Regions from separate parts of the Homo sapiens genome. Here region 2 is linked to region 1. The links come from fine-mapping of genetic effects on gene expression. Tissue or cell type: whole blood. Region 1 holds a variant in brackets; the other region holds the start of a gene. All regions are shown on one strand. Distances are between the middles of the regions.

What was found. PIP is the estimated chance that this variant, and not a neighbour inherited with it, causes the effect.
Region 2: RSRC1 starts here. The variant in region 1 is fine-mapped to the expression of RSRC1 in whole blood (GTEx, PIP above 0.99).

The regions. Positions count from the first base shown.
Region 1 is chr3:157,933,572-157,938,726 of GRCh38, forward strand. No RefSeq gene overlaps it. Among named protein-coding and RNA genes, the nearest start is that of SHOX2, 170 kb to the right of the region's middle. The variant G/A (reference allele first, on the strand shown) is at 2,431.
Region 2 is chr3:158,107,484-158,112,638 of GRCh38, forward strand. RSRC1 (arginine and serine rich coiled-coil 1) reads left to right here and starts at 2,606. Exons shown (of 10, transcript NM_001271838.2): 1 at 2,606-2,740. RefSeq lists enhancers at 2,267-2,768, 2,570-2,919, 2,769-3,268, 3,130-3,179.

The DNA of each region.
Region 1 (5,155 bases):
AAGTTTTTTGACAGCTTCCTTCTACTGAGGAGTATAACTAGTTGAATGATCAATAAACAATTAAAATAAGGCAAGCTAAGTGAGATTCCTCCCACTGCCCCACCAAAAAAAGATTGAGGACTTCAAATTTGGAAGTCTAATTTTATAGTTTTAATAACAAACTATAAAACCACACGTGTAACACCTGTCCAAAGCCAAGTGTTCAAGAAACACTTATGTGAAAAGAAGTTACATTCTGATTTTCCAGAAAGGGAAAAATTGTCACCCCTTAAACAGCTATCCAATCATTTAGCCGAAGATAGTCCCAAAACCAATGGCAAGGTGAGTGCCTACCTATGCCTACATTTTCACACAAGTACACTCAGCCAATAAGAATCAGAGAAAAGATAATTACAATCTTTCTTCACATTCTTCTTGTTTCTTACATAATATTTTCCTTTTAAGAGTGATAAATCACTCTCTTCTGATAAATGGGCTGTTAATTTGAGTAGGCTGCATTTCCTTCTCCCTGCTTCACTGTGTGTGTGTGTGTGTGTGTGTGTGTGTGTATACACATACGTACATAAAGATATATACACATATTCTTTCTAAATCATTTGAGAGTAAGTTGTATACATAATTGTTCTTTACTTGTTAAAATTTCAGTGTGTATTTTACACAAACAAGAATGTTATCATACATAACCACAGTAAAATTTTCAAAATTGGAAAATTGAACACTGATACAATACTATTGTCGTCATGCCATATTCCAGTTTCACCAATTGTCTGAAAAATGTCTTTTATAGTAATTTTCCCCTTTTGTTCAGGATCCAAACCAGGATCACACATTGCATTTAGTTGTCATGTATCTTTTGTCTCATTTAATCCAAATCGGTTACTCGGCCTTTCTTTGTCTTTCCCTGATCTTTACAGTTTTACAAAATAACAGGCCAGTTATGTTGTAGGATACCCCTCAACTTGGATTTGTCTGATGTTTTATAGTAAGTAGATTAAATTCAGGTTATGCATGTTCTTAGCAGGAATGGCATAAAAATGATACTGTGTCCTTCCCATGAGATCATATCAGGAGGCTCATAATGTTGGTTTATCCCATGAATGGTGATGCTCACTTTGATCATTTGGTGAAGGTGGCATCTTGCCAGGTGTTTCAGTGTAATATTATCATTTTTCTTTAAGTAATTGATGAATAATTTGGGGAGATATTTTGAAACTATCCTTTGAAATTTTGAAACTCTTCCTTATCAAATTTTTACCCACACTTTTAGCATCTATTAATGATCCTTTCCTGGTGCTTACAAAATGGTGGGTTTTTTTTAACTTCATCAATCTTCATTTTGTCTACATTTATTAGTTTGAGTTCTGCTGTAAGAAAGAGCTTTCTCCTCCCACTCCCTCATTTATTTATTTATTATTAGTATAGACTGATGAATTTTTGTTTTGTTCAATGTGTTATTATCCATTCATGTCTTATTTTTTGATGATCAAATCCACAAATACTTTAAATATGATGGTAGAAACAAGGACCATTTCTCAAATGTGAAAAAACTTTGACAGCTTTGAATGCAAAATAAATTGCCAAGAAATCAAACAAATTTGTTTTTTATTTCCTGCTTTTCCAAAAGAGTCAGATGTTAAAAAATAAAGTTTAGTGGAAATGTTAAAAAATAAGAAAATAAAAATTCATCAAAATTGAATATTGATATGAAAGAGGCAAGCCTTGAAATTATAGTCAAGTGGCCATTATTGCCTTCATAAAAACTTTCACATCTTTTGCCTTTCGTCTTTCTGGACCTTGTTTCATGGAGGCTTAGGGTGTAAATACAGACTTTTTATCAGATCAATCACTTTCCCACAGACCAGGTGCTATATACATTTACTGAATTGCTGTTTGAGATCATGATCACGTAGTTATAATCACTGTTGGTTAGTTTAATTTAATACAGAAAGACATTTTAGATGATCAGAAGCCTTCCCTTCATGAACAAAAACCATCAAATGTAGTCTTTTTTAAATTACTTCCTTTTAATGAACACAGTATAGCTTAGGGTTCTATCCCTTACTTCTAGATCAGATATTCTTTATTTTATGAATTTGCAGCCCTCTGATTTCATTTCATTGTTATTGTATGTTAAGTGCTTGAACTTAACATGGGGATATTGCTATTGTTATTTCTCAAAAGTAGCACCAAAATGCTTACCACTATGAACAAAAGAGCTAGCATTTACTGAGCACTTACTATTTCCCAGCCACACTGCAAAGCATTTGCATTCATTATTTCACTTAGTTCTTAAAACTGCACAAGGAAATAAATTCAGATGAGGATGCTGAGGCTGTAAAGGGCTGAGGCACCTGTCCAGTGTCTGACAGCTTATTATATGTTTTGGACAGGTAATTGTGAGAAAGCTCCAGCCAGTCTCTCCAGAGTCTC[G/A]AATGTGCTGTAATGCCCCTGCCAGAGGTGAAGGAGGAGGGGTTCTTCTTCTGATAACAAAACCAGAATCCTTAATCCCAGCCCGCCACATGATGTTATACCTCTTGAGCCATACTAAAGAAAACTCACTCCCCAGGATGGGAATCTAAGCTGGACTGCCTGAACTGCTCAGGCTCCCAACCTCAATTTTATCTTGGACTCCTCTTTCTCCCTCTCTTTCCCTTCCTCCTCACCATATCCAATTAGGCGTCAAATCCTAGCAAGTCTGCCTCCAAACTGTCAGATCCATTCTCTCCTTTCCACTGACTCTCTGCTAGTTACCCCACTTACTATTCACCTCCCTGCTGGGTTGTCTATTTCCTCTTTGGTCCTCCCTTTCAATCTTCATACCTGCAACAGCAAAGTTGTCTCAAACAGCCTGGATCATGACATTCACCTGTTCAGAAACACTCAAAGACTTCCCATTGCTTGCAACATGAATTCTTGTCAGTTTGGCGTTCAGAGATGCCTGCCATTTGGTCCTTACCTGCCTCACCAGTTTACTAATCCCCACTCCAGTCTCTCCACCTTCACTCCACATGCACTGCCATATCTGCAATTTCCTAAGCCATCCCTCCACATTCCAGCTGTCCCTCTACCTAGAACATCCTTCCTCTTCCACTCTTCCCTCAGTCCCCAATCCTCACTCCTGCTGTTGGTCTCATTTCTTCCTGTCAAAGACCTACATGTATAGTGAGGGCAAGGCCAGGCTTAAAAGAGTCAAAACCAGGCTATAAATTATCTATTAGGTAAGAAATACTTCAAAACTCTTTGTTCAAAAAGGGACTGCCTTAGTCAGGTTTAATCTCTCCTTCCTAGATAAGCCTGTTTCATTCTCTTTATGATTCTGTTGCTGTACTTATCAAATTCTGCTGCACGTGAAAGCTAATTGTGCACACCTCCAGCTCTCCCACCAGATTGTGAATGCCTGAGAAGTGAAAGCCATCTTAAACATCTTTGTTTCCTTACAGGCAGATGTTGAACCAAATCTCCAGTTATTGGTAGGAAAATTTGTGGTTATAGGGAGATGATTTTTTATTTGTCTGTAATAGGTAACAGTTATGAGATAGACAGATATACATCTCAATTACATATATTTGCTGTAAATACATATATACACACAGTTATACATAGTTACATATGTATATATAACTATGACTAATAGTAAAAACAAATAAATATTTATCAATTAAAATAAACTAAAGTTGTTGAGCGTAAATAGCTAATTATAAAATTTTATAAACCACATTTTCATTACTTGAGATTTGGCATCCACGCATCATTGTGTAATGAGATAGATATAGAACTTACATGGTTCTCTTCAATTACAAAATGAATAGATTTAAAGTGCAAAATGAAGTGGATATCTTTTAATATATAAAAAGCTCTTACAAATAGGAAGGAAAGCGCTAATTGCACAAAACAATAAAACAGGCAAACGGCACTAACAGCCACTTTTCAAAAAATAAATAAAATGGCTAATAAACATTGAAATTGCTTACTAGTAATCAGAAACTGCAAGTTAATATAATGGTGCATCTTTTTTAAATCCATCAACTTGGCTAAATTTTTCAAAGCTCATGACCATTCTCTCTGTTGGTAGGCTTCTAAATTGTTATAAACTCTCTGGAATGTATTTTGGTGATATGTATCAAGAGATTTAAAATATTCTTACTATTTGGCCCAATAACTGCCCTCCTGGAAATCTATCAAGAGAAAATAATCAGAAATGTAGGTAAAGATTTCTGTTAAAGAATTATCATCACAGAGTTACTCATAACAATAAAAAATTGGAAAAATCTAAATTATTAAATAATAAGAAATTCTATAACATCTATACAGTGGAATATTTTGCAATCATTAAAAATAACATTTTCAAAACCTATTTAATAATGTGCAAAATGACCAAAAGTAACAGGATAAAATAACTACACATTATGATCCTATTTTTGTTAAAATGTATTGGTGAGATAACAGGTAATTTTTTTATTTATACACATCTACTTTTCCCAAGTTTTTACACAGACAACATAGTTTTTATTCTTTAAAACCCAAAATGAAAATAAAAAGCGATACTTAATTGTCTTATTCCCAGTAGGAACCAAAACTCGAAGACCAAACAAGTCCGTTTTTTATTTCCTCAGCGAGTGAAAACGACCGACTTCAAGAAACTGCCAGAATGCTGCTCTAAGCTCCCATTTCAAAGAAATGGTGTGGTGTTTGTAATGGATAAATTTGAAGAGACAGCCAGTATTATTCTCATCTGTGATATATCATTTCTGCCTCTGATATAATCTTTAAAAAGAAAAAAAATCCACTTCCACTTCCCTTTAAGTCCCTACAACTGTACAGACACCACTTGGTAATAAAAACAGCCTTAAAACCATGTGCCTCATTATTTCACAGCTACTAACCATAAATAACAGTCTCATACTTTGGGGATTATAAATTATTCACATGAAAGTAACGCCAAATTATTAAAAGCCATTTGGATGAATCTGTGACCTCCTTTGGCAGCCACTGGTTTGAGTGACAGCCTGCAAGTCAGTGTGGTCAAAGCTTATATGGACTAGCCAAGACAAGCTCTTCCTCTTACTCACCAAGTTGCTTTGGTTTGAAGCCAGATGAACTACAATTCTGAGAAGAGAAAAAGTATTTTTCCATTCTGGAGCTCTGTTTGGGGTGA
Region 2 (5,155 bases), 170 kb after region 1:
CTCGGACCCCTCTATGGTGAATTACAGGACTTCTTCTTTAGCATCTTGGGAAACATCCGAGTTTATTTACTAATTTGAAAAACAAGAGATTATCCCTCTTCGAGTCTGAAAAAAAAATCGACGTTAAGTTTGTACCCCCTCTAATTTCATTTATTACGGAGAGCTAAAAAAGAGACGCTCGCCAGGAGTAAAGGTCTCTCTGCCTACCCCCCCCACCACCCCGCTTACGATTTAAAATTCTATTTCTGGGCTATTTTCATCGGAACGGTTTGTTACGTTAGAGGAACATCTATATTCCTGAGTCATTTGTCTGTATTGTGCCGGACAGGGCTTGCTGTGAGAAGTGTGGCTATGCAAATACATACTCACAAAAGAATATTTACATATGATGTTATATTTAAGTGTGTAAACAAATATACCTCTAAGTGTGGCTTAGGGGACATTTTCAAGTACTCTGAATATTAATGCAGACTTTCTGGAAGTTAAAGGTAACTTGATCATTATTTTGGATCTAATACTCTTAGTAAAAATAAGAGGAATTACAGAACATTAATATGTATATCTTCCGTATATTGGTTAAGGCATCAAAACAAATTAGCAGATAATTTAAGAAGTTCCGTCAAAACAACCTGAAACACTTGCAAAAAGAGAACACAATTATAACTTAATATATTAGTGTTTCTCAAATAGATGTAGATAGAAGCTGGATATAACCTTATGTTATACTACAATACTCACATTAAAATGTTCATGTTTGGTGAGTTTAAGGATTATGTATATCATGCTTTTTAGAAACGTTGTTTTCCCTTTTTAAAACATTTCATTTTTTGCCACTTTTAGGAGAGCTAATGTCTATAATTTTTCCGCAGCTATAGCTTTTAGGTATGAATACATTGTTATCAGTACTTGCTTTTGTTTTGTTACACCACAAAAGGGACAAAGTTTCAAAGTTATACGAATTTAGAAACAATTTCACATTGAGTCTTGGGTTACTCTTTGTAACTACTTTCTGATATTATCAGAGGAAAATAATCATACAACTTTAGTCCTTTATGAAAATCTGTTTTTAAGATTATTTAGCAGAAGGGCCAGTAATAGGGAGAGCTAAGAGGATACGGTGCTCAAGGTGCTCTCAAACTGAGGTGTTAAATACATATTCACAAATAACTCAAAAATAACCACTGTTAGAAGTCGGTTAAGGAATCAGGAGACCCACCAGCTACTTGTTTGCCTTTTTAAGTACATGACTTTTAGGTTTGAAGTCATATTTCATCTACTGAGCTTGAGGGAAAGATGACCACTTTGAAGGTAATCAGGGAAGTCACAGACACAACTATTGTGTAATTCAAACCAATAAATTTTCCCATGATCTCAGCTTTTTGGCTCATTGCATATTTAGGAATAGTAGTGTTGATAACAGATGGAGCCATGAGAAATCTTTAGTGTCTGACCACAGATTTCCACTGGCCTAAGGGAAGTTACTTTAAAAAATATTTCAAGGTTTTAAATTCATACATTAATAAATGCTCACAAAGTTCCAATGATGTTGTTTCATTAAACAGCAAATATCTTCCAGAAACAGGGCATTTCAAAATACAGTTTTTGTTTAAAAAAAAAAAAAAGCATTTATGGTAAAGCTCAGCTGACAGTCTGTGGACAGATGCACAGGTTCCAATAAAATTCAGGACCCCAAGGGTTTCCCCAGCTCTTGAATTATTTAAAATATACACGTAGTGTTGTAGTAGTTAAGTTTTAAAACGGTGCCTCAAAACTGGCTAGTTAAGGTACATTATTTACGAAAAATATATTGTGGAGGTGATTTTTCACCATCTCAAATGTCTGCGGAAAACTGTAGCTTGGTTATCTAGCAGTGGTGAATGAGTTGATTCTCATAGTCGACCAAAACCCAGGCCAACAATTTATTTATCTTTTTAGCTTTGCTTAAGAGTAAATGAGGAAAAAATTTCCATGTAAGGAAAAATAAGTAATGTAGTATGAATTACAGAAAATGCTGAGTCTCTTTAATTTCTATTGGTTTAAATAAAAAAACTCCACACACCTATAAATTTGAGTTCTCTTTCAGAAGAAACCGCTCCCCGCCTCGCCTCAGGCAGCTCTCTCCTATTCCTCTACTAACCAGTTACTTTAATCTGAGAAACTAATTTGCACTCAACTTGTGAGTGCCTTCACCTTCAGGGCAGAAGAAACACCGACTTTTAATGCATTTTTGCAAATAAATCATTACAATTTAATCACACACGACTCTATACAGACACACTCCCATGATTTATTATCGTTGGGCGAGTTTCCCCCTCCCCCAGCGTGAGATAACCAATTTTGTTTCGGGTAGGTGTCATAAACAAAACTTCCTACGATGCAGATTTGTTTACTGATTACCCATGACGATAACGACGACTACTAAGACAATAACACTCTCCAGTCCCACCTTTATTGCTTTTGGTAACAATAAAATCAAAATAAACAGGCACGCAAAACAAACGCCAAACAAAAAATCGGCCGCGTTACAATCTACTCCCTCGGCATTCCCAGCGCCTGGCAGCGTCCATCGATGCACTCGATATCTCGGCTGAAGCTGCCTGGCGCTAGAACCAGGAAGGCGCTGAGCTTAAACTGAAGCAAGTTCGGTGGACGCCGGCGGCGCCCTGATCTAAAGAAACGACTCAGGGACTGCGGCGCTTGCACGTCAACGGGAGGTGTGAGCCCAAAGGTCTGGACCCAGGTGATGCCCACGACCAGGGCCTGGGGAGCGGCAGCCGTGGCTGCGGAGCTCCGAGGCCCTGATCCGGCGAGAGGCGACGCGGGGCCTGGCGCAGTTTGCGGCTCAGTGTCTGTGGAGGGTGGGCTGCGGCCTCGGGGCGTGCGCAGTGTCACCGTGCGCATGCGTCCCGCACCTGGGAGGCTCCGGACTCCTTGGGTCAAGGCTGGTGGCTGTAGGGTGGGTGGGTGGCCGCAGGCCTCAAGCTTGGCCTTCTGTCTTGAGGACATGTCGGAGAGTTCGCCGACTCCTCCCCTCGCCCCACGTTCCTGGTTCTTCATAGCTGCTTTTGGGTTTCCTGGCTCATCTTGCAATATAAGCCTGGCGCTTCCTCACTAGCTCTAGGTAGGGTGGAGCAAGAGGGAGGCTGGATTCTGGTGCCCTCTATCCCATCCACTCCACTGTCCCTGCCTTAGATCCAGCTCTCTTTCTGATTCCGCCCTACCCTTTCTGGCTCACACTGGCTTGCTGAGAGAAGTGGTGCAGGGTGAAATAGATGTTCCTCTCTTGAAATATAAATATGCTCGCCTTAAACACACTATATATTCCTTTGACTTCTGTACTGGTGGCATGTGACCAAGAGCATATGGCTCTGTTTACTTTTGCAAGATGTTACAATGCACCGTAAGGCATGTTGCCTGCTCTTGATTTTAGGTTAACCTTGACGTAATTTCTCTCTCAGAGGTTGTGTATCTTTAAATGCACACTGGAAACCTAAACAAAAAAATATTTTTTTACACTTTCAGAATTAGCAGTAACCCAATTGTGTTCCAGCTAACTAGGTAGTAGATAAATAAATTCAAATGTCTTATGTTGTCACAAGAAAGCATTCGAGTTGTCATCTTTGAACTTAGATGTATTATAAAAGTTCTAAGTGAAGGAGGTAAGCAGAGTTCCCAGGTTTAAGATTTGGAGCAGGTGTGACAGTTGCAACCTTGGGGGAAACTAGGTATCCTTTAAGAGCCTCTCTAGTCTTAGAGTTTATAAATATTCACTTTCTTTGCAGGCAAAGATTTCATGCTAAGTGATATAACACTTTATGTTTTTCAATAAGAGGGCTAAAAATGTCAGAATCTGAAACGACAAAAACAGCTGGCACCTTCTGTTAATTGGCCTTGCCAACTCAACCAGTCTCACAAAGAGGGGTGTTATGAATTGGAAAAGTTCTGAAAGCGGGTTGTTTATAGTAGATCTATAGTTGTATTTCCTGCTTTCATGTTCAAACCATTGGGGATAAATTCCTATGATTGATCATGCTTTTTTAAAAAGAGAGATGCTTGCAAGTTTTTAATTGTGATGGGAGAAGTGTTTTGACAGAATTCTTTATCTCTTTTGAGATAAAGAGTTGTGTACTTGTTTATGGATTTCTTAATATGTTAGTTTTCACCCCAGTTTTACTTTTCTTCTTTGAGGTGGATTTCCCATTGAAATAACCATTGTTTTCACTTTTTCTGGCCATGTGTCCAGAATCAAGAAAATTATAGTTTGATATACTGAGTGAGTAGTGGAGAAGTAATTATAAGCTATCATGTCCTTTGGAAATCTTTGTTCTTCAAACTGATTGCCTGTTTTCTGAAAGAGATAACTGCTTCTTGTACCCTTATCAATAACTGGACAAAGGAACTACTTGTGTAGTCCTTTGAGTTCTCTTTTCTTGAATGACCACATGTTGGCTTTACCTCTTCAATCAGGCACGTGAACTTTACATTAAGATATTTCTGTAAATTGATCTCCTCCTGTAGTCATTACATGCCATGGCTTCAGTTCTGTAGTGGGAGTTGTTGGGTGAGTTTTGCAACCACGAGGCTACAACCAGGAAGAACTAGAGTGAGAACAGGAAACCAAGAGCTATAGGAGCTCTGTCCCATGTTGTCTCTTTCACCTACAGATAGATTGAAAATTGTCAGCTTGTAGGACTCTAAAAGCCTGTGCTCCATTCATCATTCATTGCCCTTATCAGAAAGAACTATCAATGTGTCTTTCCATTCATTGCACCTTACTGGTGGAGTTAAGTATAAAGAATTCTTCCTTACTAGGACTATGTAATATAAATTGATTACCATGTCTTGAATTGGCAAGTATATTTAATTACATGCTGATGATATTATGGAAATCCAGGGGTAAGTTTATGTCTGTGGTGGTGAGTAGGACTTCAGTACCTGTCATTTATAGAGAAGACAATTTTGGGATCTACTTTGTGATTTGCTGTTAGTATTCACTCCCTTTTGTGAATAAATGTTTGAAGTTAACTATAACAAAGAAATATGGTGACCTTTTGCTTTCTTTTATTGGGATTAATTATATTTCAGTGTAATTTTTCTGAAATGTAAATGTGTCACTTGAAATATTTATAGTTTTGTCACACTGGTTTTTCAAACT